4 linked regions of the Homo sapiens genome follow. The protein of the gene in region 4 interacts with the protein of the main gene of each other region in a biochemical or structural test. Each region holds a gene or a part of one and is shown on either strand. Other genes may lie near its edges.

Evidence for each region.
Region 1: the proteins of THBS1 (region 4) and FGF2 form a complex in vitro, tested with the Homo sapiens proteins (one study listed by BioGRID).
Region 2: the proteins of THBS1 (region 4) and PDGFB form a complex in vitro, tested with the Homo sapiens proteins (one study listed by BioGRID).
Region 3: the proteins of THBS1 (region 4) and PLG form a complex in vitro, tested with the Homo sapiens proteins (2 studies listed by BioGRID).

Annotation. Positions count from the first base shown.
Region 1 is NC_000004.12:122,829,335-122,837,090, forward strand, and holds part of FGF2 (fibroblast growth factor 2 isoform 18 kDa), read left to right. Parts: intron 1-7,756. UniProt on the Homo sapiens protein: Acts as a ligand for FGFR1, FGFR2, FGFR3 and FGFR4. Also acts as an integrin ligand which is required for FGF2 signaling. Binds to integrin ITGAV:ITGB3.
Region 2 is NC_000022.11:39,234,686-39,242,441, reverse strand, and holds part of PDGFB (platelet-derived growth factor subunit B isoform 1 preproprotein), read left to right. Parts: intron 1-1,314; exon of another isoform or gene 1,315-1,429; intron 1,430-1,532; exon of another isoform or gene 1,533-1,569; coding exon of another isoform or gene 1,570-1,587; intron 1,588-6,567; coding exon 6,568-6,664; intron 6,665-7,756. UniProt on the Homo sapiens protein: Growth factor that plays an essential role in the regulation of embryonic development, cell proliferation, cell migration, survival and chemotaxis. Potent mitogen for cells of mesenchymal origin.
Region 3 is NC_000006.12:160,733,076-160,740,831, forward strand, and holds part of PLG (plasminogen isoform 1 precursor), read left to right. Parts: intron 1-919; coding exon 920-1,013; intron 1,014-3,811; coding exon 3,812-3,932; intron 3,933-5,462; coding exon 5,463-5,537; intron 5,538-5,992; coding exon 5,993-6,133; intron 6,134-7,756. UniProt on the Homo sapiens protein: Plasmin dissolves the fibrin of blood clots and acts as a proteolytic factor in a variety of other processes including embryonic development, tissue remodeling, tumor invasion, and inflammation. In ovulation, weakens the walls of the Graafian follicle.
Region 4 is NC_000015.10:39,583,473-39,591,228, forward strand, and holds part of THBS1 (thrombospondin-1 precursor), read left to right. Parts: intron 1-144; coding exon 145-220; intron 221-515; coding exon 516-715; intron 716-827; coding exon 828-950; intron 951-1,997; coding exon 1,998-2,091; intron 2,092-2,653; exon of another isoform or gene 2,654-3,781; intron 3,782-3,874; coding exon 3,875-4,048; intron 4,049-4,569; coding exon 4,570-4,746; intron 4,747-5,053; coding exon 5,054-5,227; intron 5,228-5,486; coding exon 5,487-5,614; intron 5,615-5,729; coding exon 5,730-5,882; intron 5,883-6,332; coding exon 6,333-6,551; intron 6,552-7,043; coding exon 7,044-7,151; intron 7,152-7,718; coding exon 7,719-7,756. UniProt on the Homo sapiens protein: Adhesive glycoprotein that mediates cell-to-cell and cell-to-matrix interactions.

The sequences.
Region 1 (7,756 bases), on a different chromosome or scaffold from region 4:
CTGGAAGGGTGCTACTGGCATCTGGCAGGTAGAGGCCGGGGATGCTGCTGAACATCCTACAATACACATTATAATACCCTCAACAAAAACATTTTTGACCCCAAATGTCACTAGTACTCAGGTTGAGAACTCTGCTAACTTTATAACTAGCTAAGGACAAGACATTAAAAGGGAAATGTAGAATAACTCATCCAGACTTGTGGAGACTACCAATTTTTTTAAAATTTTTTATTTCTATAGGGTTTTAGGGACCAGGTGGTAGTTGGTTACATGAGTAAGTTCTTTAGTGGTGATTTGTGAAATTTTGTTGCACCCATCACCCAAGCAGTATACACTGAATCCAGTTTGTAGTCCTGTCCCTCCCCAACTTCCCACCCTTTCTTCCCAAGTCCCCAAAGAGACTACTCTTTTTTTAAAGGATACCTGTACCAGGCAATAGACTGACAAGAATACAAATCTAAAAATGACAAATTTCATCTATTTCTATGTAGCCCAACCTGGACATAAATTTAAGTACAGTATATTATTTTCTCACATATTGGATGTTTACTGATAGTTGACCAAACCATGAGGAGACCCCCCAAAACAAATAAAACTGACCAGAAAACATGGAGAAGAGTTAATAGTAGCCACAGTTTCCTACTACATTATGGCTCAGATTTCTAGACCTGTTTGAAAAGTTGAAAAATCTATGGTCTCATTCCTCAGACTGTTTTGTCCAACTGACCTGAACATCTGTCACTGGAATTTTTTTTCCTTTGGCATGACACTTTGTGCCTACATGTTTTCTAAACTGCAGGTAACTTTTGAAAGGCCAAGTTCAACCATTATCAGATTTTAACATTTAGTATGGATTAAATTGTGAGTGCAATTTCTTCCCCAAAAGCTGGCCAGAAGGACTGGAGTTTGGGGAGGGATGCTTTGAAGACTGTGATATAAATGATGGGGTCCTGGAGAGGTGCAGGGGAAGAGGAGGCAGAGTGGGAAGCTGTGAGGTAGGAAAGAGAGGAAAATTTTCTAAAAGAAGAGGTAGGAGAAGATGACACAACACAAATGTTTCCAATTTTTCAGTGTTGCTGAAGGTCAACTGTGCTTCACACCTGGGCATTCTCCTGAATTTGCACTCAAAAGGGCCCATTTTCTGGCGTTTTTCTCATAGTCCTGGAATAATCTTCATTTGACATGAGAGTCTTGATAAAAACAAGATGTTAAAAGTGGTTAGAGAGTTTCTCCTTCTCCAGCATGTGCGCTGCACTCCTGCCTTTCTTTTGGCATCCTTAACTTTTGGCAGGCCTCTTTCAATGCGGTGGGAATGGATAATATTAAGTATGTACTCTAAAGTAGCAAGCTGTGTAAAAACATTCAGAAGAGAGAACACTTTATCCCAAGCAGCACGTACAACATGTGGTAGAGTATAGTAAGTGAAATGTATGCTGCTTATGTACACTTAGTATTCAATTTATTCCAGGTGCTCTTATTTACAAAAAAAAAAAAAAAAAAAAAAAATGAGAGTAGTTAGAAGTACTGTATCTACCCTTGGGCTTCTCCCAGGAGGTGACTGCCTGTGTGCCACACTTCTTTGCTTGCAGGCTCCAGAGGACGCTGAGACTTGGAAAGGCAGACCTGCCCACCCCAGTGTGGAGCAGGGGTGGCTTGTAGGTGGGCCTGACCCCTGGGCTCTTTGCTACTGCATGTGTTCCATGCAACCCCAAGCATAAAAACATGGACTTGTGAAATCAAAGGGAGGCTTCAGACCTTCTGGTTTACCCATCTCTTTTTACAGAAGAGGATACTGAAGCTCAGAAAAGTCACCAATTACTCAAGTTCACTTGTGGGTTTCCTCTTTTTTTATCCTGAATGAGCTTCTTACCACCTGGTCCCTTGCCTTCTCTTCCTGCCATCCCTCAGCCTCAGTGCGCTCTTCATTCCACCATAGAGTGTGCCCTGCTGGACCCCACTTTGGTTAGGCTTCCTCCATTTCAGGGTAGTGAGCTGCTAGCCCCTTTGAAGAGTTCTTACTAGTTTACGGGTGCCTCAGGTTGATTTCCTGGGGTTTTGGATAAAGCCACCTTTCCATCTCTTCACTACTGCCTTTGGGGTAAATAGAACCATTGATTTAATAATACACGTACTAGATTCTCTCCCCCCACCTCTCTTTGGTAATATCTGGCAAGTGGATAGCAATAATTTTACTTAATGAACGTGATATTTACTGTAATAAATATTGGGTGCAGTAAACAAATGAAGTCAGAATCTAATAGCTCATTTAATCTTGGAAATCATGTAATCAGTACAGCAATGAAAGGACAATTCATGAGTCATAGATATTACCACACCTTAGGAGCCTTTTAAGATGAGTTTGATGCCAAGTGACTTCAGCCTAGAAAAGGCAATATCCCCTCATGACATGCCCTGAGGGGTTTCATTTGTTTATAAAATGACCGTTATGTAATTAGACTTTGACAATGGTGTAACAATTGGGTTTTAAGTATTCTCATTTTGATTTATGATGCCATTTTATGTGGAAGGACATAATTTTAAAGTTTAATTAGAAAATAAAATGTTACAGATGTAATGAACAAAACAAGAACGGTTCTTTAAATATCATAAGCATAAAATTGACTTTCTTCATCTATACACTGATTCTGAGAACTCATCATCAGTGATGTTGAAAAGACAATTTAAGGTCTCACATTATTGGAACTACTATTTTAAAACCACGAGATGCCTGTACAAGCTGGTAATTACACATGTGCTGTAGTCTTTGCTTGTTTTTCCAATTCTAGTGTTTGTTGATTTTCCAGATACCCTACTTGGGCCCCTATGTCCCGTAGCACACGTCTGTAAGAAGGCTGGCATGGGATAAAAGTCTATGACCATGAAACGGAGCAAGGCAAATCTGTATCTTTGGGGCACATATCTTTTTCTTTTTTTCTTTTTGAGACACAGTCTTACCCTGTCACCTAGGCTGGAGTGCAGTGGCACAATCTCAGCTCACTACAACCTCTCCTTCCTGGGTTCAAGCAATTCTTCTGCTTCAGCTGTGATTACAAGCACCTGCCACCGCACCCAGCTAATTTTTGCATTTTTAGTAGAGACGGGATTTCACCATGAATTTTCCTGGCTGGTCTCGAACTCCAGACCTCAGGTTATCTGTCCACCTCAGCCTCCCAAAGTGCTGTGATTACAGGCGTGAGCCACCGTGCCCAGCCTGGGGCACAAATCTTAACCTCATCAGGATATTCTGTCCAAACAAATGTATTTTGTTCTGTTTTATTTTTGAGTTTGTCCTTTTCTGTGCTCTGAAATTAGGATCTGGTCTAGTACTTAATTTGTATATTGTCAGTGCTCAATAAATAGTTAATGCTTGATTGTTTGCATAATAATTTGGAATAATGATTATCAGTGTAGAGTTTTAGCTGGATCATTAGAAAATGCACTTATGGCACTGTGATTTTAAGTGTTTCCTTGTTGTATCCACTGTTCAGTTAGCTCCTGCTTTCTCTTTTCTCCCTTTAATAATGACCGCCAACAAGGCCTTTTAAGCTAGGTTATGTATAGCCACAGGAATTTAGGAGAGGAGGAAAAGAAAAGTGGCAACTTCCAGGGGAACTCACCCTTTGAGCCATAGACTGTGGTTCTTAGAAGCCAGACCAGTCTCATTCTAAACACCTTCAGAATATTTTTAGTTTGAAGAAATTGGAAGGGCCTGGAGGCAACAGACAGCCAATATTCAGTGTTTATGTCTCATCCAGCTGTCTTCTGTCACTCTTCCTGCACAAGGTGACTTTTGACTTGACCGGTGTATCTTTGATACTTACTCATTTACAGAAATGTATAATGGATGTGTGTGTGTGTGTGTGTGTGTATGTGTGTATTTGTATTTTTATAGAGCTATTGACTTCTGCAATTTAACCTCTAAGATGAATTATCCAATAGAATTCTGAAATGAAAAGTTCACAGATTTTCAAGGTATTTTGGAGATTTAAAAATTGAAGAGAAGCTATGTGAATATTAAGTGTATGTTCCAGATATAATTGAACAATTGAAAGGAATGATCCTGGTTTAATTTATAATTAAGCTATACATTAATTTATAATGAAAACTTGTAATTAAATGATAACTCAAATTAGCCAAGAAAAAAGTATTTTTTAAAAGAAATTTGTACAGAGTAGTAATGATCTGGCTGCATTCTGTGAACAGATTATTCTCTGTTCATAATTTAGGCACCTTAAGATGCTGGCACCTTAAGGTAGGAACCATGACTTCTTTATATAAATAAACATCATAAAAAGCTCAGTACTTTTTACTCAGAGAGTGCTCACTAAATGTCAGCTGATGAGGAAAACATTCTCTGTGGAACTTGCTGTGAAATAACTACTCATGAGGCATATGCTGTATAAAGCTTGGTCAAAGTTTACAGTTTTCTTGGTGTCTTGACATCTGTGTTTAGATACTTGGTCAATCTTTAAATGAAGATAATTATATATAGCAAAGTTATATTTGGGAAACATTTCGGAATTTTGGAGACTGGCTATTAGTTTTTCTTAGAATAATCTAGAGAAAGATGAATCATTTTTCAGGAAAAATTGTTTAGAACTTTTATTGGGAATTCTGATTTCCTTAAAAGTATTTAAGATTTTTATCATGTACTATTGTTGTAGGAAAATCCTGGTTCTTGTCACACGCCCAGGAAAGATTAGGCTCACAGACACTTTGGAGGGTGAGGGGTTATGGAATTTATTGGTCAGAAAGAAAAAAGGAAAAACAACACAGCAAAGCAATAGGGGTTCATATTAACAGGCCCCCATCTCACAGATTGATTCCCAAGTTACCACCCCGAACAGGAGAGACCAGTCTCCTCCCTGCAAAGGGCGTGAACTTCTGTGGCTCCACCCCATTCTCCCAGTGTGCAGGCCATTTGGAGGTTCTCCAGGGACCCCTTTATACTTGGCTGTCCTGTCTCACTATGCAATATAAAACTTTCTCAGGTATGCTGTGCATTGTTTTTCATTCTTATTTTCTTTTGTGAATAATATCCTGGAATCAGTACGTTCTTCTACATCATCTCCTTTTCTTTTTTTGAACTCTTTTAAATTCTAGATTCTGCCCTCAGTATTCCACTTAAATCATTCTTATGAGAGCACCAGTAGTCTTCTAATTTAATCATGTGGCCTTTTCCAATTTTTCATGCTACTCTGACATGTGGCAGTATTGTCTGCCTCTGACTTCTTGATAATTCCTTGGCTTCTATTACATCACATCAACCTGGTTCTCCTTTTGAAACTGCCTTTGCAAAAGTTATATCTGAGAAAATTATGACACTGCCAGAGATATGACCTAGCCCACTCCCCTCCTCTTGCCTTTAGCTTTCAAGCTGCCTTAATCATTTCTGGGCTTAGGCCCAGATAACTTTGGGAGATAGTTTAAAGGATAATAAGCCTTCCCCAAAACTCAACTGCCTTTATAAAGCTAATGAAAGGCCCTCAGGCTTCAGGGGAGGACAGGAATCTGAGTTGTGCTAAGGTGTAGACGTATTAATAGATTGCCACTAGTGCACCAATAGTGGTGCAGATAACACCACTATTGTAGATTGGCCTTTTGAGATATCTTTTCAGGTTTTTTGCATGTCTGACACCCATGGCTCCAGCTGGACCTGCTAAACCACTCCTGTGGCCCCACCCAGGAATGGTTCCACTCAAGAGGACAACTTTGACCCCCTATTATTTCATCTTCAGCCCAATGAATTATCAGTAAGCACCCATTGCATAGCAATCCTCACCCTTTCCCCCAAACTGCTGTTGAAAAACTCCTATCCCATGAGCTGTGGATGAGATTGGTTTGAGTACTAACTCTATCTCCCATGTGGCTTTGCCGGCCTTGTGTTTATTAAACTCTTTCTTTACTGCAATGCTGTGGTCTTTCCTTGTGCAGCAGGCTGGAAGAACTCCTCAGGCGGTTATACTTTTGCCCATCCAACTGTCTTTTTTTCCACTTTCTTCTGTTTTTTTTTTGCATTTGTATTCCCCCAAGGTTCTGTTTTTAGCCTTCTACTCTTCTTTCTGTGTACTTGTATTCCTTCAGAAGATCATGTATTGTCTCTGTCTCTGTCTTGATTCCCCATCTCAATTTCCCACTGCTTGGAGGGCAGACACACTGCCATAGCTTCAACTTAACATACATAAAACAGAACTTAACACCATTTTCTCAAACTAGCACCCTTTCCTCCTGAATTTCTGCTTGTAGTGAATTATTATTCTTGTCTCCAAAGCTAGACACCATGGAATTGTCTTTGATGCCTTTCTCTACTTCTTTCGTATATATCTCTCTAAAATGTTTCCCAGCCATAGTGATTTCCTTGCCCTGCCTCTTGATTTAATGACCTCTACTCTCCTGCAATTTTAAGCACTAACCAGACCTACCTGGCTTTCCTTCTTAAACATGACCTACCTTATTTCTTACTGTTTACCATCCATACCTTCCTGAAGCTGTAGCACTCTGTGCTTTAATTATAGTCTCTTTAATGTGTCATAACGATTACTGTCACAATGATTGGCCTTTCTTCATGTGACTCTTGTTTTTGAAAAATCCTTCTTTTTCTTATCAATTTCTCTCTCACAACTCCTCCCATCCTCACCTTTCTCTGGAAAAATCCTTTAAGATCCAGCCCAACAGACTTCTTTGTGAAACTTTCCTCTACCTTCCCAGGGAGAATTAATGGTTTTTACTGTTTTCCCATATACTTGGTACATAGTCTGAACACAGAACTTCATGCTTTCTGTAATAGTTAGTGGTTTATGTGTCTGGCTTCTGCACTGGGACTGTGAACTCTTTGTAGGCAAGCACTGGATCCCATTTGCTGCATCTATCCTCACACACAGTGGCCACTCAAAGAATGTTTGTTAAATTGAAGATGTACTCAATAAATTAGCCAAGTCTCTTAACTTCCTTTCTGACCTTCCCTTCACGTCTCCTGTCTTCCTTGTCATCTTAGCCTTTAACCAGGCAGTTTTCCTTAAGCTGAAATGTCCTGTCTGTCCTCGTACCTTATCCCATTTCCAGTCATGCTTTGGGCCTTATTTCTTTCACATCATCCTGTATCCATCTTTCCTTTTCTGTGTGCTATCTAAAAATTCTCTCTAATAGCTTGTTGTATTTTAATTTTATGTCCCCCAGTTTTACTGGAAATTCCTAGCTGGCAAGAAATTTTTATTTTTAAAAAATCCAGACCACATTACCCAGTAGTTCTTTACTCTTTCCTATTCTGAGGGTCTGAGGCTGAATTTACTCATCCCAGGGTCCTTTTGGCTTCATTGCTGAATGAGTGACCAGTCTGAGTCCCATGAAAAGGTTCACTCTATATTTGTTGAATGGGCAACAACTTCAAATAAGTATAAATACTATAGTATGAGGCATATAAAATGGTAAATTGAATGCAACAGCACTGTAGTTCTTTTCTGCAAACACCTTTAACATTATTCAAGGGAAGCAATAAAGGCAAAGCGTAGTCATTTGTTGGATCACTTTTTATTTTGGAAACTTTTCAGCTGTTAAGTAACATATTAATATTTCTAGCCAACATTAATGCTCAGTTCTAGAACTGGTTATAGTACTCTAATTAAGGAACGCAGACCTGGGAATTCATACCTGATTCAGACACTTCAATCCTTACGTCAGTGTGTCTCTCTCTTACTCAGGTCTAAAACCAGTGAATCATTGTAAAAGTTAGTATTGGGGACTGTCTGGTACCATTGTT
Region 2 (7,756 bases), on a different chromosome or scaffold from region 4:
GGGTGGCCGGCCGGCCCCAGCTGCCGCCTCGCCTCGCCGTGGGACCTGGGGGCTGGGCCCGGTGCCAGGGCGTCCTGGGAACGGCGGCGCCCCGTGGCTGCTCTCCGCAGCCCACCCCGCCCGGGCCCCCGACTCGCTCACTCACCCCACGCATGCACACTCCTGGCCGGAGGCGATGCTGCGCTCCGGCGGGCGGGCGCGCAGAGCGACGGGCACGCACTACCGCGGCCAGGTCGCGCGCCCGCCTCTGCCACGCCCGTGCACACGCGGGACACACGCGCGCGCACCGCACACAAACGCACGCACGGCCCCTGCACGCGCGGCCTGAGCACACGTGCGCGCACACCCACGCACGTACACAGGCACGCACGGGCCCCCGTGCACCCAGCGCCTGGTGCTCGCCCCCGCGCAACAGGTGGGCCCTCCGTGGGCCCTGGCACCTCACCACCTCTGTAGCGGCCCCATTTCCTTCCTGGCGTCCTGTGAGGGAGGGAGAACCTCCCATCAGCACCACAGCACCTACTTTTTTTTTTGCCTCGTCAGCCCGACGCCCCTCAAACCTTACCCATCTGTGACTCCTTTTTTTCAACCACCTCCGCGTGGTGGAAAATGGTGGTGATGTGACTCTGAGGGGCACTGAGCTGTCCAGAGCGATTCCCCCTTCACATAAGCCTTCATTTGAACCTGCAAGACTGGAGGGACCTGGCGTGTGCAACCGCGGAGGGGGCTCCCACCCCTGGCTGTTGCATTCTCTTGGCTGATCCCAGCGTGCCCCGGGGAGGCCGCTGACAGCTGGATGTTTCCCCAGCCTCCCCTTACCATTTCCAGCTTCGTCCAGCACCTCCTCCTTCTTTCCCACAGCTCCACGGGCTCGTGTATCTGGGGTGGAGGCTGTGGCACAGAAACTGCCTTTCTCCTCACTTTAGTCACAGCATTCTTGAACACATGGCCACAGGCGCGATGTATGTGGCACTTTGCAGTTTATGAAGCACTTTGCTGCTAAGCCTGAGTGAGCCTCAGGCTGGCCCTGGGGGAGGGGACCTGCATGGGGATGGAACCACGCAGGGGTCAGTCCAGGAAGGAGCTGTAATGGCCAGTGCTGGGAGAGTCAGGGCAGGCCTGCTGGTGGAGGTGGCCTTGGAGCTGTCCACGTCCTGGTCGTGCTCGGACTAATCTTTCAGCAGACGGCAGGCAGCCGTGAGGCAGGGCTGGGTGGAGGGCCTGCCGAGGCCTCTGAGGTGCCATCTCCACCAGCTGAGCTGGCTTCCAGGAGGGCGAGTCCCACTGTCACGTGACGCGTCTGGCCTCAGCACACTTCTTCCGGGAAAGAGTGAAGGGCCCCACTGCCCTTTGCCATCCAGCTTCCTCTGGCTTTGCTAATGGCCCTAGGGGGCAGGAGACCAACTGCTGGAATCCCAGAGCCCTGGAGGTGTGCAAGGGCAGGTCAAACAGAATTTGGAGGATCTGGTGCAAGAGCCAGGAAGAGAGAGAGAGAGAGAGTGTGTGTGTGTGTGTGTGTGCGCATCTGAGAGAGAGAGAGAGAGAGACTGACTGAGCAGGAATGGTGAGATGTTTATCATGGGCCTCGTAAGTACCTCTCCACGTCTTGTCTTCCCCTCCCCACATTGAGGAGCCTCTTCTGTGACAACTCTTCCTATGTTCTGGTTTATTTCATTGTTTATTACCTGCTTTCTCTACTGGAGTGTCAACCCCATTAGAGAGCTTTCCTCCTGGTCCCCACTTTTAGAACAGTGCCCAGAGCCCTGTGGACAATCAGTAACTATTAGTGCAAAGAACAGTTAGTGCTGGGTTGGTGGGGAGGGCAGGACCTGGCCCCCTGTTGCTCCATGGCCCCACTGAGTCCTCGCTTTGCTCTGCTCCGAGGGCAGCCCCCCTTTTCAGCCCTCTGGTAGGCATCAGTCTTTCAAAGCCCCCCATCTTGAGAGAGAAGCATGTCTGTCTCTCCTCTGTCTTGGGACTTGGGCTACCAGGATTAGACAGGACAGAGGAGAAGAAACAGAAAGAAAATCAGACTGCAAAGGTTCTGTGTATCTTTAGCTGGGGCTAAGTTTCTGCCACCTAAAAAAAAAAAGAGAGAGAGAAGATTGGATTAGTGCAGAGTTCCCAAAGAATGGCAGAATCCCCTGGCCCCGTCCCCTGGCTGGGATGGGGATGGGCAGTGATTGCCGTGGTTGCCAGTATTATAAATGGCTGGACTGGTTCCTCTCTTCCTGCTTTAATTTTCCTCTGCTCCTGCAAGAGGTGGGGAGGCCAGGGTTCTGGGCCCACGTGAAGGAGCAGAGGCTGAGCGGGAGGGTCCCAAGAGCAATAAAGAAGGGGAATGCTAGGTGGGAAACACTGGTTCTAATGGCTTCTGTGGTTTGCCCCGAGAGGGCTTCTTCAAAGGGGTTGGTTGGCTTTGGCATTCGATCTAAATAAGGCCTGCGACTCTCAGGCAGGCAGGCTCTGGGAGGCCTCATCAGCTTCTTCCTCTGCCAGCCACAGACAACGCCCCTGGTTGCTTGGGCCTGTGTGTCCCTTGGTGGGAATGGCAGGCGGGCCGGGGAGTGTGTATCTGTGTGTGTGTGCTGGGCCCAGGAGGAGGGTGGGGTTCAAGCCCCTTTGATCTGCCAGCCTGGTTGGGAGCAGATCACTCACCTGGCCTCACGCTCGCTCGTGCCCTTCCTACCTGCTGCAGCTGGCGCTGGGGGCGGGGTCGGAGGAGGCTGTTTACCTTGGCTCCCACGGCTGGCTTTGCCCCAGCTGCCTCCTCGCCACGCCCTCACTCTGCCAGAAACCCCGGGCCTGAGATCTTGGGACAGCTTCTTCAGGGTGCCAGGCCTCCTTTCCCATCTCTGAAGTGAGCTGTCCACCTGGAGGCCTGCGGAACCTGTGCCCAGGAAAACCAGGCTCCGGGCGGCTCACCTTCCCATACCAAGAAGAGCCTGTGACTCCCAACAGGTGCTCATGCTCGTCATCCCCAGAGCATTGCATCCTGGAGCTGAGCACGTGCTGAGTGTCCCCCCACCCTCACCCACCCCCAGCCCCGGAAGGGCCTTGTAAGCCCACACGGCCCAGGCTCTGCCAGTGTGGAGGTAGGGTACCATTTCCTGTGGCCCAGCACAAGGGATAATGCAAAGTCACGCACTCTTTCATGGGCAGGCAGCTCTCCACCCACTCCTTGTCATCCTCAAAAATGTCCTGTGCTGCTGGCCCTGAGCACGTGTGCCACTCGCTGCTGCCCACAAAGGAGCCATCCGGAAAGAATTAATGATGATGACAGTGACAACTCATTAAGCTCCCATTATCTGCTGGCAGCTCTGCTCTGTGCAATTATGCCTCCCAGTAACCCCGGGCGAGGTATTATTAGCCCCATTTAAAAGATGCAGAAGCCGAGGTTTTAGATTGTGACAAGATTCCAAGAATCCAGGTTGCCCTGGCATCTGGAGCCCTTGCTCTTTCCTCCGCTACAGGGTTTCTCAGCCTCTGCACTCCTGATGTTTGGGAAGGCCGTCCTGTGCCCTGAAGGGTGGTGAGCGGCATCCCCGGCCTCCCCCAACTTAAGATGCAGTGCACACCCCAAGTTGTGGCCACCAGCGATGCCTTCATACATTGCCACTGTCCCCTGGGGGCCCACTGGGCCCTGGTTGAGAGCCTCTGACGTGGGACATGCTGCAGAGTAAAGAGCCAACACGAACCTTGTGTGATGCTGAGGGCCAGTGGCCTTAGAACACAGGAGAGGGAGGCTGAGACGCCCCATGGTGGGCTGGAACAGGTGGGCAGTCTGGAGCCTGGGAACGACCCAGCTCTGCCACTTGCTAATTGTCTGGACCTGTTGCTGCTTGTTTAATTTTTTCTAAGCTTCAGTGTTCTCATCTGGAGGATGGGGATACAAATACTGCCAGCCTCTTAGGATTGGTAGTTTATACGGTGTTTTTCTCAGCGTGTGGCTTGTAGCTGGCATTCATAGATGTTAGTTGTGGTATTATTACCAAATCCGGGGGCTTATGGGTAGTTCTGGGCATCTAGTGGCCACATTACCAAAAGCATCTTCAGGGACGGTCTCCCTGCTCAGATTAAAAGGGACTCTAGTTGCTCATTTGCCTAGGGTTGGGGAAGAATATCCCAGGTGGCCCTCCTGGTGGAGGAGGCAGAAGAATCATACTGGACAGAACCTGGAAAATGGTAGACTCCTTCATGCATTTGACCAGTATTTACCGAGGACCTACTATGTGCCTCTCTCTCCTCCTCAGACCCTATCCTGGGCTCTTTCACACTCAGCCTTGGAGGGGCATCTCCTATGTGTCGTGGGCCTGGATCTGGGGTGTCCACTCGGCCTGTTCAGGGGTCTGCCTCCTCTGCCGTGGCTGGCAGCTGCAGCCGGCTCTCCAGTGGGCAGGGAGATCTTGGCACAAGCACTAAATGCCATTTGCTACTAGGCCTTTGGGCCCCTCCCCTGGGGGGTTAATTGAATCTTTACTCCACAAACGCTTCTTGTTCTCCTTCTGCCAGTGATCCAGGGAGGCCTGGCTAGGCACCCGGCTTTGGCGTTTTCTCTGCCCCTTCTAACGCCTCCTGGCAGAATTAGAATTGAATCGAATGTTCTTCAAGCCCCTCGATTCACAGATGAGAGCCAGGACCATAGGGGCAGTGACCAGCCGAGGTCACACGGCAGTTGGTCCAAAGGCGTGGGATTCAGCTCTCTGGCCTGCCAGTTCTGGGTTTGACAGAACTCTCAGGGGAAGCGGCTTTCGCTGGTGTTCACTGGAGACCAAGCCCTCTGTTCTGTGGGTTGGGTACTTTGTCAACATTTGGAGAGCACCGGAGGCGTGGTCTCTCTTCTGAGGTGGAAAGAATGAACTTGCTTGAGGGCGGGAGGAGGCAGAGCCCGGAGGAGATGGGGCCGAAAGTGAGGGGCAGCGGGGCCCATACCCTCCTCTGTCTTGCACGTGCAGCCCCTGGCTGCCCGGATATTGAAGGAAAGACCCTAGTTCTCAGCCAAGCCCTGCCACCTTTTTTTCCTCAAGTTGCCCAGCAGCCCTTAGACATTGGGCGGAGTTGTAAGCTCCATGTTCAAACAAAGACATGGAGACTCAGGGGTTTCAGGGAATGATGTAGCTTTAAAAGTGGTCACCCCCACCCCCCGCCCTGAGTCTTCTGGCTCCTGGATCGATGTGGGTGGCCAGAGTTGGTCATGGATGAACCCCTGGAGGTGTTGCTAGACCTCATGATAAGCTGGAGGAAACAGAGCTTTCGGGGAGAGCCCCCTGAGGCTGGCCACAGGGCTGAGACGACCTCTTCTCCTCTCCCTCGCTCCCCCTCCGCCGTCAGGCAGCGAGAAAGCAGCATCCCTTTTGTGAAGGTAGCCTGCACCGACCCCCTCTGAGCCCCCCGACCTTCGGCTCCGGGAATGTGGAGCGAACCAAGAAGGGAAGTCCTCCCTTCTTAATCCAGGGAAACTGAGGCAGAAAATAGTTTAACCCAAGGTTCTATAGTAATGTGCCAAGCCTATTGATGCCCTCTCCAGGACTGTCTGTCCAGACCGTGCAGCCCGAGTGCCTGTGCCTGCACGTGTGTGTTTGCACACGTGGAAGTCCGGTTCCAGCCTTTGAACGTGCAGCGACATCTTAGGAATTTTCTTTGCTTCTCAGTGGCTGGTGGTCTGGATTGTGATTCTCAGTCTCCCATCTGCCCTCGCCTCTTTCTTGGGATCTCTGGCATCCGCCCCTTGGGTCTCCTGGGACTGTGGGGGACGTGGCTGTGACCTTCCTACGGGGCTGCTCTTGTGTCATTGTGGGACCTGCGGTTTCCCTGGAGGAAGCCCAGCTCCGAATGAGGCCTGTTGAAGTGTTATCAGGTTTCGAGTATGTTTGGCAACAGGCCAAAGGGGCTCTAAAAATAGGGTTTGGTTGGGCACAGGGCACGGGTAAGCTTTCAGGTTTCCCGGCCGTGTCCGAGGATTCCCTTTTCGCCTCTTTCGAGTGAGAGACTTCATAGATACCGCTAGGACCTGGGGCCTCCTGAGGCCATCGCACTCTGCACGCGTTTATTAAGCACCTCTTGTACCCAGGAGCCTGGGAGTACAGGCTCTGTCATCCCAAAGGCATGGGTTTGAATGCAGCTTTTGCCAATAATTGAGCCTCTCTTTGAACGTTTGTTTTCCCCTCTGTAAAATGGGGGTTAGATTGGCCATGGGAGATGCTGGCTGTCTTCAGCTGTCAGGTGTGTTGTGAGACTCAGGGAGAAATCAGATTTTGGTGCATTCCCAGAACATGTAGTTTGGTGGGGGAGACAGACATAGAGACAAGCAGGTCCAACTCAAAGCAAGCTGGGGTTCCTGTTGGGGGTTGAGGGTGCAGGGACTGAGCTGGGTCTCAGAGGCTTCGGCAGGTCCAGGCCCCGAGGCCTTTGTGCTCCTGATCATCAGGCCTGGATCCTGCCTGTCCGTCTCCCTGTGACCTTGGAGCTTTCCACAGGAGAAAGCGAGAAAGCGTGTGGTGGGGGAGACAGCCATGCTGGAAAGCCCCCACTCCCAGCTCACTCAGCCTTTTGGTGTCTGCCCGGCAGGGGGACCCCATTCCCGAGGAGCTTTATGAGATGCTGAGTGACCACTCGATCCGCTCCTTTGATGATCTCCAACGCCTGCTGCACGGAGACCCCGGAGGTAAATGGAATCCTCGCCCCGCGCTCCGGCCCTCCGAGGAGACTTTAAGAGATCTGGGAGGGGCAGGACAGGAGGCATCCCTCCTTCTTGACGTCTGGAGAACTAGAGGCCCATGGCAGCCCAGAGAGAGCGTGGCCACACCCATCCAGGGCAGGGCCGAGTCAGCAGGCGGGTTGGTACCTGGGACTTGGGGTGTGGCAGGAGAAGCACCCACGTGTGGCTCCGGCTTGGTGCCAAGGGTGGGGTGCCAGGAGGAGGGAGGGCGGGGAGAAGGTGCCCAGGGCATCTGCCGAGTATGTCTCCAGGTGTGGGCCCAGCCAGGGAGGGTGGCACTGGAGGAGTCATCTCCCCGCCCCTCTGGCTAGGGGCCCGGTCTGTGAGGTCCCCTGGGGACACCTGGCCTCGACCAGCAGGCAGCCCTGCCCGTGCCCCAGAGCTCACTCAGCGAATGGGCACGTGCTCGGTGGCACACACGTGGCGGGGCTGGCGGGCTGGATTGACAATGTATTTATAAACGCTGTCTTCAGAGCAAATTCCATTCTATTCTAACCTCTGGCCTGTTCCCTGGAGCCCTGGTCAGCAGCCCCCCTGCACCCCCAGGTCCCCTTCCCTCTGGGGTTCTGTCTCTTTGTCACTTTGTAATCCTTGCCCAGACGCTATCTACGGGGGAACAGCATTTCCTGCCTTTGTTTCCTCTCCCCGTTGGGCCCCTGGCTCCCTCTCAAAAGCATTCCCGGGCCCTTTCAATCCCGCCTGTGCTGGGGGGCGGTGAGGCAGGCAGGAGGGGGCCCCAGCTGGGCCCACCTATTGTTCGCCAGGGCCCCCACCCGATGTCTCCCACAACCCCCACCCTATGCCCGACTGGCCGCCCCTGGCCACACACAATGGGGCAACTTCCAAATTTAGCCTTTCTACCATTTCTTTCCAAGCCTTTACACCCCCACCCTCAGACGGCCCCTCCACACCCCTGGTGGGGGTCGGGATCTTGGAGATGAGGTTTCAATAGCAGGCCTGTTTCAAGGCAACCATGTGGCTATTTTTTCCTAATCAACTTAACCTTTCCACAAAGCGCATCTTTTCCCCATCTCCTCC
Region 3 (7,756 bases), on a different chromosome or scaffold from region 4:
CTTCATTCAAACAAAAGATGCTCCCTTCACTCAGGAACCCCCAAGGGATTTAGGAGCTCCGTGTCAGGAACTGGGGGGCAGAGACCAAATATACGTTTCTTATTCTACCACAGTGTCATATGAAGGGGAGGACAACACTGCCTTTCTGTGTCTTGCCCCATAGAGGGCGCACAATGCATGGAAATAAATGTTTCTGAATCAACAGCAAACAGGCTTCATCGGGTAGGAGAGCGCTGAGCCCTCCAGGGACAATGCACATCAATGATGTCCCACTGTCCTTTGGTGCTGGGGCTCTAAGGCCTCCACTGGGTCAGGCTCCTGAAGGGAGACCCATTCTCCAAAGACCCCCGAGGGTCACCACTCCCTGTCCAGGGGTGTGGCCTCATAGCTCCTTTTGAACAGGGGCACAGGAAGGACGGCTTTAGAGCATTCAAAAAATAACTTTGCCAAAATAATAATAATAATAATAGAAAGGAAGAAGAGGCTGAGCATGGTGGCTCACACCTGTAATCCCTACACTTTGGGAGGCTGAGACAAGCAGATCACCTGAGGTCAGGAGTTCGAGACTAGCCTGGCCAAAATGGTGAAACCTCATCTCTACTGAAAATAGAAAAAAAAATTAGCCAGGTGTGGTGGCGTGCACCTGCAGTTGCAGCTACTCAGGAGGCTGAAGCAGGAGAATCGCTTGAACCCAGGAGATGGAGGTTGCAGTGAGCTGAGATCATGCCACTGCACTCCAGCCTGGGCGACAAGAGCAAAACTCCACCTCAGAAAAAAAAAAAAAAAAAAAAAAGAAGGAAGGAAAAAGAAACACTCCTTTATGTCTTCTAAGGATAGACATGAAATGCGTGAGCCTTGGAACACCTTCTCCCTCTCCTGCCCCACGTGAGCTGGAGCTTACATGCCTTCTTGTTTTCAGTACTGCCGTAACCCTGATGGTGATGTAGGTGGTCCCTGGTGCTACACGACAAATCCAAGAAAACTTTACGACTACTGTGATGTCCCTCAGTGTGGTAGGTTGCCTTCTTTTTGGTAAGGAAACTGCTTACTTAATATGGATTTGCAACAAAAAAGGAAAAGGGCTTCTGAGCAGACTGCTTCTGGGGAGGAGATAGCTGCCCTCTCCATCAGACCCCACTCTTCATCATGGGCATCTTGAATCTGCCCTACTATTGGCCACATTTGTTAGAGGAACACCTGCCCATCGCCCCAGGCACACATAAATAAAATAAATGTAAAATTCCCAAAGAGCAAGCTTAGAGGTAATCTAGTCAGCCCCAGGATGGTCCCACTGAATGCTGCCATGTCTAGCGTGGGATGCATGAAAAATTTAGAGTCATTCGGATGAAAAACTTTCCCTTTCCACAGCTGAGAAGTAAGAAAGAAAATACAAACAGCAGGAAACAGGTAAGCATGTAACGCACATTGTAAACCTCAGATGGCCATCCTAGGAATTCAATGAAAGGTAGTGCAGCTCTTTAGCCCCAGATGGCCTTTCTTATAAGTTTACTACTCACAAGTCACATTAGTGACATAGCTTAGAGACTGCTTGTTGGGTTCCATCCTCATTGCTCTGAGACTCTTGTTGGGAGTATGAGGCTTGGATCAGGGGAAGGGGAGTTGACATTAGTTCTTAAAGAATTGGAATAACAAATCCATGGGTATTTCTGAAAAAAAAAAAAAAAAAAAGAAAGGAAGCTACTTGGAATTGTCCCATATTTAACATTCTGCTGACCAATCAATTTGTCCTAGTTACAGAAAACCACCCTGGACTTCTCCTATGCATAATTTGGTTGCTTGTGGTTGGGTCTGCCATGTGGAGGGACCTTGAGCTGGGGGAAGGAGCTTGGCCTCCAAGTCCACTGAAGACCAGCATCCTGAGATTGCCTGGGAAGGTGGTACAGGGCAGTGATGAAGATCATGGGAGCCACACTGCCCAGCTTCGCATTTGGGCTTCTCCTAGGGACACCAAGAGGGAGGAAGGAGGGGTTAGGATGGTATGAAAGATTCTACTTGGCCAATATTATTGTAATGCGGCATTGTGATCTCTGGATTTAGCATGAGTTGATAGCTGACTTTTTCTGCAGAAGCATCTTGGTGGCACCTCTAACTCAAAGTCCCTCGATGGAGTCAGTTCCAGTTCTCCACTTCTGGCCCCATCTGGTACACACCACTGCCTCTCACTGCCCGGGCTCTCTATCCTTGACAGGCTGCCTTGAAGTTGAGCCCAGACTGATTTTCTTGCCTCAGACCCCACTACCGTGCCTGGGACTCATGCACCTTTGACTCCCATGGAAGGGAAGTGCAGTAGTTTCCCAGGTGCAATTCTGGTGTCCTCACCCACATTGAGGATGTACAAGAATCAGGTTCTTAGAGATTGGAGAAAGAAGGAAGAATGGGAACAAGATTTTTCCCAAAGGACTGTGAGGTCCCCCACCTAACCTTGATGTGAGACAAGTGAGGTTAACCCCAAGCCTGGTGAGAAGCGTTCCCATCAGACACTTGGAAATCCTGAGGACTGTTTCATGCAGAAGGATATGGTTTATTCAGGTTTGACTCGTGCTTGAGAAAGCTAGAGCCTCTGGTGGTGAATGATTTTAATAACTATTTCCTTTCCACCAACATATACAGTACAAATAATAATAAGCAAAAATAAATAGAAACATTCAGTTTTGTTTTGAATAGTAGGAGCAGGGTACCATCATTTCTGTAGTTACTCTTTTAGTACAACGATGCATGTCTACTGTATGTAAGGCATACTAGCAGAAATTGAGCTCAGCACTAGAGAAGATGATTGCATTCTATGCCTTGCTTCTTTTTTTAAAAAAAGGCTTCCATAGATAGATTCTCAGAACAGCCCATGGCAAATGTAAAGTTATTTGGAAAACCCAGGTTCCAGATTCACTAGAGCATAGAATCTCTGGTTGGTTGGGAAGGAATTTCCTCTTACAGTTGTTACTAATAATTGTATGAACAATTATTTAAAATATTAACATTTACATTTGTGAAGACCTTGAAGGGCTGGAGACAACAGAGAAGCATTTTTGAATACCCTCTGCAGCCCCTGCACTGTTGTAGGCATTGGTGGATGGTACCAAAGATGGGACACTGTCCCTACCTCCAGAGACCCTGTGGGCTGGCTACAGAGAGAAGGCAGGGAGGAGGAAAAGAAGAATAAAGTCATATGTTTAAGTCACCCCCACGGCCGTTGGTTAGTCATGGGAGGCTCCCCAGAGGAGCTGTCCTGAAGCTGGCTGACAGAAGGCAACATTTCAACTTAGGACAGTAATCCTTGCTACATACAATCACATACACACACACACACACGTGCACACACAGAGACTCACATGGAAAAATAAACCTTTGTGCCTTTCAGCAGTGATGACAATTATGGTTTTCAGTAAACTTTACATGGTTTAGATGGTGATGGTGATGATGATGATTATGGGAAGGATGGCATCATGTTCTAAACATACTGCATGGAGTCAGAATAACAATGACAAATAACCATTTGTCCCAATCAAGGTTTTCTCAGAAAATATCTCATTCTGATGCTAAACTATACCAGTCTGTTTGATCACTTCTCCAACAAAATAATTACAAAGTGCTTATATTTTCTTGAAAAGAGAGGGTCCTGTGTTGTCTACTACCACTTTTGAAACTTAGAGAAAATGTTCCAAAAGATGATGATTTTACTATTTAGTTCGGCCTTTAAGATGTCAAAAACTCAGTGCTTGGAATTTGTCTCGAATTACACCACAAAATTGCTACCTTGTCTCAAATGGGATTTCTTTCCCACCTTGTGCCACAGCGGCCCCTTCATTTGATTGTGGGAAGCCTCAAGTGGAGCCGAAGAAATGTCCTGGAAGGGTTGTAGGGGGGTGTGTGGCCCACCCACATTCCTGGCCCTGGCAAGTCAGTCTTAGAACAAGGTAAGAACAGGCCCAGAAACGATTTATACTGTCCCTCCACGTAAGCCCTGCAAAACCCTTCTACATTTACATAAAATCCACACAGCTGAGGCATCAGCACCTGCCTCTAAGTTTTCTGAAGGAGGAAAAAAGCTACAAAAATTAATATATGTATATATACATATATATTTTTATAGGTTCTCTACTGTGAAAATGACAAAAATTGCTGTCTTTTTCTTGATCTGGGCAGCTCCATCAAAATCTGTAGGCACAGTGATTTGCACCAAGTTCCAATATTGCTGGAAAATACTGAAGATGCTCTGAGGATTTCTATGGATATCCATTGTCTCATTGTCAGATGAAAAGAGGGGGAAGTTTTTAGAAATGTGACACTTTCTGGGTTGGGAGAGCAAGGACAAAATTATCTCCAGTCTATCACAGGCACAGATTCTTTTTCTTTGGACACTTTCGTGAATCATTGAATTCAATGCAGAGGCTACTCATCCATTCGCAAACAAAAAAATTCTAGGTCATGATCCCCATAAATGAAGAGTGATCAGTCCAATCCCAGGGAACCTGGACATTTTGGGTATTGTTTCAGTGGAACATGCCTTTCATAAGTTCCATTTTCTTGGGTATCTCTTAGGAAGCAAGCATAGGAAACAGGCCCATCCGTCTGCCTGTTTTGCTTCCTCATCTCACTTCTACACGAGGGTGCCTGTGCTCAATTGCTGTTTTCCCCTAAAGAGACTCTTTTCCATAAGTTTGTGAAATGCCATCGACAAACCTGATCGCATTGCATTTCACTCTGCTGTTGAGTCGATTTTTCTTTATTTTATCATTTAGTAACTCCTTGCTCTACAGAGCTTTCACCTTCCACATATTTCAGATTCATTCTTTCCTAAACTATGTGGTGGTCTACGTCCTCACTGACTTATCAACATGCTACCATCATGCACTTCCTATCTCTATTCCTCTTCTTTAAATTTGGTTCCAAATGGCTCACACCATTATTCTGAGCTATTACCTGCCTACGCAGTCCTAGAAAGTAAGTGATTCAGGAAACATTCCCCAAAAGTAAAGTTTCTCAGGTAAGATCAGAAGACTCCCATGAGTCACTGCTGCTCAGGATCACATCTGGCTCCTTGAAGAGTGATTCATCAGACCTTACATAGATCTTGTCATAAAAATGAAAGAGGCCTCGGGGGAAGGTCTTGGGCTGGTGGCTTCTGTTGGAGTCCTGGGCTGTGGGGTGAAAGCCGTGGCTGTAGAGCTTCATGCGGAGTTACTTAGCTTTGCTCTCCTGTGGACAGGCCATGCCTGTGCCTCCCCCAAGCATCGGAAAAATTGGCATAGATGGGCCCTTCTCAAAAATCCCACTCCTGGAGCACTGGCCAAAATTACTACCATCCTGATGCTGGGCTTGCAGTCCTTTCCTTTGGGAATATGAACATGGTCAAAATTAAGTGAACGTGTCTTTCTGGCTTTCTGTACAATGGAGCAGAACAAAGTATCAATTTAACTAAAATTTGAACTAAATCCTCTTTCCAGGTTTGGAATGCACTTCTGTGGAGGCACCTTGATATCCCCAGAGTGGGTGTTGACTGCTGCCCACTGCTTGGAGAAGTATGTTTAGGGGACAATTGACATGAAGTCTTGTCTTAAATACTTTTTCTGTCCTTCTTTTCCTCCTTTCCTCCTTTCCTTTCTCACTCTTCCTCCCTTCCTTCTCTGGCTGTGACACTAGGGACCAGGCCAGGGCAATTGGATAAGAGAGAAGGGAAGGGTTTCTAGAAAGAAACTGCAGAGGAAAGACACAGTACAGATGATTTTGTGGGCCTGAATAAACTGCAGAACAGAGCTGTTCACTACCATAGGCTGTATCAGTCTCTGCCCAAACAGCCCAAGAACATTCCTTAACTGCCTGTTTCAAGCAAATCATGAATTTTGCTTCTTGCCACTCAGAAGTCACTAATTCTGAGTGGCCAAGGGTGTCAGGGAGACAGCACCAATTTCATGGCACAGAGGTTACCTGAAGGGGCTGGACCATATTTTCCTCTTGACGTCCTCATCTTTTCTAGGTCCCCAAGGCCTTCATCCTACAAGGTCATCCTGGGTGCACACCAAGAAGTGAATCTCGAACCGCATGTTCAGGAAATAGAAGTGTCTAGGCTGTTCTTGGAGCCCACACGAAAAGATATTGCCTTGCTAAAGCTAAGCAGGTACTCGTTCACCTGTGGTCTTCACCCCACGCTGGTGAAGATATTTGCTTTATGTCTGGGTTTTATGGGCCATGGCCACTGCATGGCAGTGGGGAGGAACTGTCTATCACATGAAAGGCTCAAGGGCTTTGGGGACAGCATCAATCTTCAACCCTAGCCCTGCCACATGCTAGCTGTGCTCTTGAGAAAGGCAGCAGGACTCCGTTTTCTCATGTGGAAAAAGAGTTGAAATGAGGTACTCTGTTACTCCTAGAACTCACTTAATGTTCACCAGTTCATACACATTCATGATCAGAGAACGATTCAGTTATTCCAGGCTGACAATTCCCCCTTCATCATAATATGTTTAAGAGAATCATATAAGACTATATTTGTTTCAAAGCACTTTAAAAACCACAAGATCGAGTTGGGTGTCTGGTGTGGGTGCCTGTAATCCCAGCTACTTGGGAGGCTGAGGCAGGAGGGTCACTTGAGTCCCGGAGTTTGAGGCTGCAGTGAGTTATGATCGTGTCACTGCATTCCAGCCTGGGCGACAGAGTAAGACACTGTACCAAAAAAAAAAACACCAAAAAAACAAAAAACAAACAAAAAAAAAACAACTTCACAATGTCAAAAAAATCACAAATACAGTTTATAAATGTAAATTATATTATTATTATTGTCTTCTTTGATTTGATTTTCTCTTTCCTGTTGAAATGTTGTTTCACTAAGCCTGACAAAGTGAAACATTTGCTTATGTCACTCATTTAGTGCTGTTTGGAGCCAGATACTAGTTGAGTCAGCTAAGAAACAGCTATTTGTAGGAGAAGCAGGTTTGGGACAGGTGACAAGGCACGCAGGGCGCTCGCTGTGCTGGTGGTTCTGGAAGACAGGGTGTCAGTGTGGACAGGGATGAGCATGGCCTGGATGAGAAGGCACGGGGCAGGAGCCTGAGCTGCTCTCCTGGGCCTGGCCACAAGCCCAGGGCAGCTTCTCTGGGTCTGTGAACTGAGGGGTGATGTCCTGGGATGCTCTGACACTCTAGAAGGAGAGAAGAGCCTTTCCAGCTCAGCCTTTATAAACAGTAGCTGATCTCCCTCCTGCTCCCCAGTGTCCTCCCCGCCATCCCAGCAAATGTGCAAATAGAAGGTCCCCGTTCCTCATGATCCTCAGAGAGCTGGGGTGTTCTGATGGCTTGAACAAGTAATTTGGAAATTTTGGGTTTTGGAGGAGTTCTCTGATAGGCTGATACATTTCGAGTTTAGAGTTCCCACCCCACATCCCCACACCCCGAGTCTAGGGCATTTAGTGCTCCACCAGGGAACCTGTAGAGTGAGGACGTCTGCATGACAGGCTGGGCCTTCTGATGATGCTCAGAAGCAGAAAGTGTGCCTGCTTCAAAGTTGGTGACGATGATGTTTCTTGATCAGAATAGGGCATTTCTTATTTCCAATCCTTTATCCTCTTGAACTTACTAAAGTAGAATCAGGTCTAAAAACCGGAGTTCTAATGTTTGAGAGTCCCTGGGACTCTAAAGTATATGAATGTTCTTTGAAAACAAATACCATTTTGTTCAAGCAAAAGGCTTATTTCCAATCCTCTTTCATTTGGTATCAAGTATTTTACTGGATTCTTACAACTATG
Region 4 (7,756 bases):
ATTTTGACATAGTGATCTTAAGACAGCTCTTTGAAGCTTTTAGAACATCTATTGTATGCTTTTCCTAGCATACAGACAGTCTCCCCCAACCCCATCCCCACCCCGCTCTGCATTCTACAAGTAATGTGTGTCCTCTGCCCACAGGGGGTGCTGCAGAATGTGAGGTTTGTCTTTGGAACCACACCAGAAGACATCCTCAGGAACAAAGGCTGCTCCAGCTGTGAGTACCCCTCTATTTTTAGGGCACATAGGGAATCAGGGGGAATTCCACCAAAAACAAACTGAGGAATTTAGCAATAGTGGTTATACATAAATTACCCCCAGTGAGATCATCAAGAGGCATACAGAAGTGACTCCAAGGGGTATTATACACACACACGTATACACACGTGCGCATACACGCAACCCCTCTACCTGCATCCTTCACACCAAATGAAACGTCTTCTACCACTAAGAACTCAAGAGGCTGGTTGGTAAGAGTATCTATTTGAAGTTTTCATTTTGTTTCTTGCCAGCTACCAGTGTCCTCCTCACCCTTGACAACAACGTGGTGAATGGTTCCAGCCCTGCCATCCGCACTAACTACATTGGCCACAAGACAAAGGACTTGCAAGCCATCTGCGGCATCTCCTGTGATGAGCTGTCCAGCATGGTCCTGGAACTCAGGGGCCTGCGCACCATTGTGACCACGCTGCAGGACAGCATCCGCAAAGTGGTCAGTGGCCTCTGCACCCAGCCCGTTAGCATGAACCCTGGAAGGTTTATCGCAGATGGTCCCAAATGACTGAAAATGCGGGGGGACACTAATGATATTCTCTCCCATTTAGACTGAAGAGAACAAAGAGTTGGCCAATGAGCTGAGGCGGCCTCCCCTATGCTATCACAACGGAGTTCAGTACAGAAATAACGAGGAATGGACTGTTGATAGCTGCACTGAGTGTCACTGTCAGGTAAGGGACCTTCACCAGCCAGAATAAGAATCGACGGCTTTTGTTTGAACCTACATCTTTGGGGAAATACCCTAATCGCCACAGAGATTCTTTTTATGTTCCATGGCCTGATAACAAAGTGTTTTTTTTTTCTTTAAGATGCAATTATGGCATCTATAAGTTCTTCTTTAAACTCTCAGATGGTTTATCAAAGTATTAATTATACCCCAGGCTAAGTATCTAAGAGAATGAATCTACTAAGACATCTGAATAATTTACCTACCTTAGTTCAAAGACTAAGTGTTGAATGTCAGGTAAATAAAACCTGGTTGGAACATTCATTTTTTTTTCCCAACCCTGATTTATATTCAGCTTTGGCATAGGTTCTTTTAGTACAGTAGCAATTGTTTTTCAAATCACTTAGTCTGACACTGTTAGGATGTTACTGTCTGCTTTGCTCAGATGGCACTGCCAGGTGTGTGATTCACTCTAGCATCCCCGCATGCCAGTGGCCAGTGAGTTTGGAGGTTCACCTGGCTTATCTATTAATAGCAAAGTATTTGAATTTGCTTAAATACAAATCACAGATGACTGGCTGTGGGAACCAACTTCATTAAATTCCCTTTCTTTTCCAATATAAAGACAGATCACAGATCTATAGATGAGGAAAAAGTGCTTATAGATCTTCCTTCCTCCCCCCAAACACATAATATAAAAATGTAAAAGTCCTGGCTGAATTTTCTGAGTTTGATTTCAGACATAGATTTGACCCATGATGTTTGTTGGTTCCTCTGCTATAAATTCTTTGTACTGTAACTTCCACCCTTGACTAAGTAGCAATTAAAAAGAACTTTCCAAGGAATGGAGTGACACGTAAACTAGCACTAGAACTGTCTCTACGATAGTGGTGGCTGCAAATATGACAGAGACAGATCTATGAAAATCATTCCACTAGAGCATTGACAGCCCTGACCATGTTTTGGCTTGTAAAGGAAATGTTACAGGATGTAGACTTCTGTATGCAACATGCTCAGCAGCCTGTTCCCCTCTCACTCTCTTGCCCTGCAGAACTCAGTTACCATCTGCAAAAAGGTGTCCTGCCCCATCATGCCCTGCTCCAATGCCACAGTTCCTGATGGAGAATGCTGTCCTCGCTGTTGGCGTAAGTTTCTCAAATGGCATAGCTATTCTTCAGTGACTAGGTCAGTTCTACATACATCCTAGACAGCCGAGCACAACACTGGAACCCCACCCCCATCTCCATCATGCTTCCATTCAGTTTCTTGCTGCAGCAGCTGGTTAACTGACAGCTTATCTGCTGTACAGAGCCAAAACTCCATTATGAGTACATCGTAATTACCCATCTGGATTGCAGTAATGGCAGTGAAGATCTTGGTATAGCTCATTAATTCTGATTTTTTGCTTTGAGGAAAAGAGATGAAGACGTGGCAGCAACAGCTCTAAGTTGACTGCTTTTAGAATTTGACCTTAGTGGCACAGAGTTAAGAAAAATCTGCTCACCAGAGATATTGACAGGCTTACTGTGTAAGCATTGGCCTGATCGGGCCTGGAAGTTTTGCCCCTTTCATCTGTAGGGATAAGAGGGCCTAAGAGAATAGCAGCAATCTGAGCTCTAGAGCACCAAAAGAAATAAGGCACGATATCGTTCCATGGCACGTTATCCCTGGCTTTTGTTACCAGTAAAATGAATGACTTTGCTGAGACAATACTTAGTGTAGCAGGTACAAGTTATAAAAGTGATTCATTACAACTAAGATAAGGAAGAAAACAGGAAAACAGCACTTGCCCTTCACACACACAGAAACACACATGCACACACACACAAACACACCCTTGTCACAGCTCAGAATAACCAATTCCATCCAGGGATCATATTAGCGATATTGGCACTGTAATGGTCGTTTTTACATTTATTTTCTGTTCCGCATTCACTTAACATGTGCGTTAAAAGGAACAAAGCTAGCTGGAGGTAGCAAAGTTTTGAACTTGAATCAGGGATTGCTAAGAAAACTTACAACTAATGACCACAGAAAGTAAGTTCTTTGTCTTCTGTCTGATACAGCTAGATGTGATTGTAGCCGTGGTGCCTGGGCAGATGGTAAACAAACATGCTGTCCTCTTATGACAATATGTGCAGAGAAGGCCCCAAACGCTGGGGTGAGAGGAACAACAAACTGACTAACTCACGGCCGAGTTGGAGCCAGAACCAACAACAGCTCGGCTGCCTTCACACTCATCTGTCAAACACATGGTGTATGGCTCCCCTGACAGAAATGACTCCTATAAGCTTCCTCATACTCGCGCATTCTTGGAAGTCTGAGACTGGAAATGCCTACCCAGATATGTTAAGTCAGTAAAGGAAAACTCATTTGCAATGCTGAGAGGAGAAAGAAAATCAATGAATAGGAGAGCATACACTGTGGGAAGGCTCAGCTGTACTGAGCCAGGCAAAGCATCCGATTACCCCACTGCTGTACACATCATGACCTGGGATAAACCCCTGGGCCGTTGGCCTAAGAAATATGTTGCTTTTCATCCTGTATAACTGCAACTTTGTGCCGGCTCATATTATGTTCTAGAGAGCTCATGTACACCATGGTGACCATAGTTAATAATACTGGATTGTATGCTTAAAATTTGCTAAGAGAGTAGATCTTAAGTCATCACCAAAAAAAGTAACTGTAAGATGATGGAGATGTGTTAATTAGCTTGACGGTGGTAATCACAATATATGTGTATATCAAAACATCACATTATACACCTTAAATGTATATAATATTTGTCAATTATACCTCAGTAAAGCCAAAAAGAAATAAATATATTGCTTTTCACCCTCTGGCAAGTGGAGGGCCCTGAACAGAGCCCTCTAAAGAACAGCTTGTCCTAATCATCACGTACCTGATGAACCTCTGTTTCCCCTGCAGCCAGCGACTCTGCGGACGATGGCTGGTCTCCATGGTCCGAGTGGACCTCCTGTTCTACGAGCTGTGGCAATGGAATTCAGCAGCGCGGCCGCTCCTGCGATAGCCTCAACAACCGATGTGAGGGCTCCTCGGTCCAGACACGGACCTGCCACATTCAGGAGTGTGACAAGAGATGTAAGCATCTTAGCCTCTCAGGGACGTGGAGAACTGACCTGTCCTTGTTGTCGTCACCAAGGGCAGCTCCACAGCATGTATATTAAGAACACGGGTTCTAGGATCTCTGGATCCCAATCCCACTGCTTAGCTGTGCACCCTTGAACACAACTTACCCTCTCTGAGGCTCTTTCCTCATTTGCAACTTGGAGATAATAATAGTTCTTGATAAGTTTATCTTGAGCATTTTATTTAGATACTGCATGTAAAGCAGTTAGCACTGAGTTTTGGTTTATGGTAAGCACCCTGTAAATGTTAGGATATTAACAGCAACCCATAAAAACAGCGAACTTATCCGTTCTCTGGTAGAAAACATTCCATGTTGACATTTGGGCATGTGGCCAGGAGCCAATTTCTACCGTACACTGGGTTTAGTTGCCATTGACCATTTCCTGGAAATACTTCTGCGTGCTCCTGATGGGAGCCTCTATTTGGCTGTCTCTAAGCCAAAACCATTTGTGACCATCAACTCTGTACTTTAGTTAAACAGGATGGTGGCTGGAGCCACTGGTCCCCGTGGTCATCTTGTTCTGTGACATGTGGTGATGGTGTGATCACAAGGATCCGGCTCTGCAACTCTCCCAGCCCCCAGATGAACGGGAAACCCTGTGAAGGCGAAGCGCGGGAGACCAAAGCCTGCAAGAAAGACGCCTGCCCCAGTAAGTGTGAGGTCCGCTGCAAGGGTGAGCATGGGCAGCAGCTCTGCCCAGCTGGTTGCCTGGCATCTGCAGCCTGCAGTTCAGTGGGTCATAGAGCAGGAAGGTTACCTACTAGAGAAACAAACAGAAGCAAAGTCCTGCAGGCTCAGCAACTTCTTTTAATGAAAAACAAACTCACCCTCTTCCCCAGCATTCTTTCCATGTGTCAGAGAAGCAGAGGTTTCTTGAACGGGCTTAGGAGAGTCTATGACAAGGGAGGGATTTGAAAGTTGATCTTAATTGTTGCCTGTGGTTCATCTTCTTACAGTCAATGGAGGCTGGGGTCCTTGGTCACCATGGGACATCTGTTCTGTCACCTGTGGAGGAGGGGTACAGAAACGTAGTCGTCTCTGCAACAACCCCACACCCCAGTTTGGAGGCAAGGACTGCGTTGGTGATGTAACAGAAAACCAGATCTGCAACAAGCAGGACTGTCCAATTGGTGAGCCACGCAGCCCAGGATGAAACGACCCAGGAGCTTTGCTCTTTTACTGAATGCTGCAGTCAGCATTCGAGGAGATTCCAGCTTGGTTAGTCCTGAGCGATTTGATTGCTCTAAGATGCAGGTGGACAACATAATCCCAACAAGTTATCGGTTCCCTATACCCTATAATATCTTACACTGTGTTAAGTGCCCAGCATGGCAGTATGGCAGCTTAGACCAACCATTTACTGTGACTGTCTCTCTCTCCTTGTCTCAGATGGATGCCTGTCCAATCCCTGCTTTGCCGGCGTGAAGTGTACTAGCTACCCTGATGGCAGCTGGAAATGTGGTGCTTGTCCCCCTGGTTACAGTGGAAATGGCATCCAGTGCACAGATGTTGATGAGGTGAGGAACTGATGGGGCTCCGAGTTTCTGGATCTAGGAAAGCAGCTAACCTGTGCAGTCGCTTCCTTATGGCAGTGACTTCTAAACATGATGCACGCTCTTATTTCCTCCATAGTGCAAAGAAGTGCCTGATGCCTGCTTCAACCACAATGGAGAGCACCGGTGTGAGAACACGGACCCCGGCTACAACTGCCTGCCCTGCCCCCCACGCTTCACCGGCTCACAGCCCTTCGGCCAGGGTGTCGAACATGCCACGGCCAACAAACAGGTACAGTCAACTAGACGAGTAAACCAGAGGACAGGAGAGCTGTCCTTGACCAAAATAACTGGGAGCGGGAGGAATGTAATTTCATACCCTTCACCAAAAAAAAAAGGGCGAGGAGATGAATGTACGGTCTAGTTTTAGAAACGTGATTAGAAAATCCATGGTAAATCCTGCAGGGGAAAAACAGTCTTCCATATTTAAAAATGCTGCTCTGGAATAAGTTGTGAGCAGATGGACTTGTAAACGCCTAGGTGCTGAGCAAATTCAAGAAAAATAAACATAAAGCAAAGTTTGCTTATAGCCTCAGGGAGAATGGGGAGGGACAGAGGTAACCCACACTCTTCCAAATGGAGCCTCTGTCTACTCAGAGATGACAGGGATCTGGATTCTTGTTTCCATGATATCTGAGGATTCTCAAAAGCTCTGTGTAACAGCAGCATGGTGTACCCTCAGGTGTGCAAGCCCCGTAACCCCTGCACGGATGGGACCCACGACTGCAACAAGAACGCCAAGTGCAACTACCTGGGCCACTATAGCGACCCCATGTACCGCTGCGAGTGCAAGCCTGGCTACGCTGGCAATGGCATCATCTGCGGGGAGGACACAGACCTGGATGGCTGGCCCAATGAGAACCTGGTGTGCGTGGCCAATGCGACTTACCACTGCAAAAAGGTAGAGCCAGGTCCTTTGTGTGCCTCCAGAAAGAGGGCCCATCACCTTATCAAAACACAGGCTAAGGAATTTTAAATACTTAAAGTTTGGACATGAAACTGAAAGATTAAATCTCCCAAAGGGAGAGGGGCACTAATTCCTATTAAAATTAAATCACTTGGTGCCAAAAACATGAACAGGGCTAGCTCTTTTTGGGCAACTGTGTTCCATAGTCAACTCTTCTGTCCAAAAAAAAGTTCAGTACTCTATCCAAATACCAGCAAAGCATGACTTGTGTTCACAACATCTATAAAGCCTAGAGCATTTACACAAATTCTGTATGTATATCCCCCAAGAAAAGTTTTATTTTCTTGTCTTCCCATAAAAAAAATATGCTGTTACTGAGCCAAATTCTGTTCTTTTTCTATTTGGAATTCCAGGTACACTCCCTCGTGCATGAGCTCAGCATGAGGAAGGCAACTGAAGCAGTGATATATATCTTCTCTTTCCTAGGATAATTGCCCCAACCTTCCCAACTCAGGGCAGGAAGACTATGACAAGGATGGAATTGGTGATGCCTGTGATGATGACGATGACAATGATAAAATTCCAGATGACAGGGTAAAAACAGTTTTCTATCCCTTTTTCATCTTTTCAGTTCAGCAACAGCCTGAAACACTTTGGGATTCAAGGAAATTACATGGCTATAGCAAAAAATATACCAAATCAATACACAGGATAATTAGAAATTATTCATTGTGTTCCAGTAGTTTAAGGATGTAGATGTTGCCAAGAGAATTTTTAAATGAGGGTTTTGTTTTTCATCAGAACTGTTTTTCTCTGTACTTGAGAAATTATAATGCATAAACAAATGCCACTTTGTTCCCTAGATTCATTTCAAATGTCACATCGAAATTACAGTAAAATTGACTTTGGGCACACTATGAACTGAGATGATGGGATTATATTCTACATCTCACTAACTTCTAACCCACAGGGATCCATTTTTTTAACTATGTCCTTTTAACTTTTGTAGTGATCGTTTTACACTGAGTGATCAATTAGCCTATCCACTAGGTAGAAAGTATTGCTGATTTTCACAGTTTTAGACATATTATGCACATGGTTTGAGGCTTGAGCTGTTTTCAAGGACAACATTGTTAAGTGCTCCATTTCTTCTCTTTGCAGGACAACTGTCCATTCCATTACAACCCAGCTCAGTATGA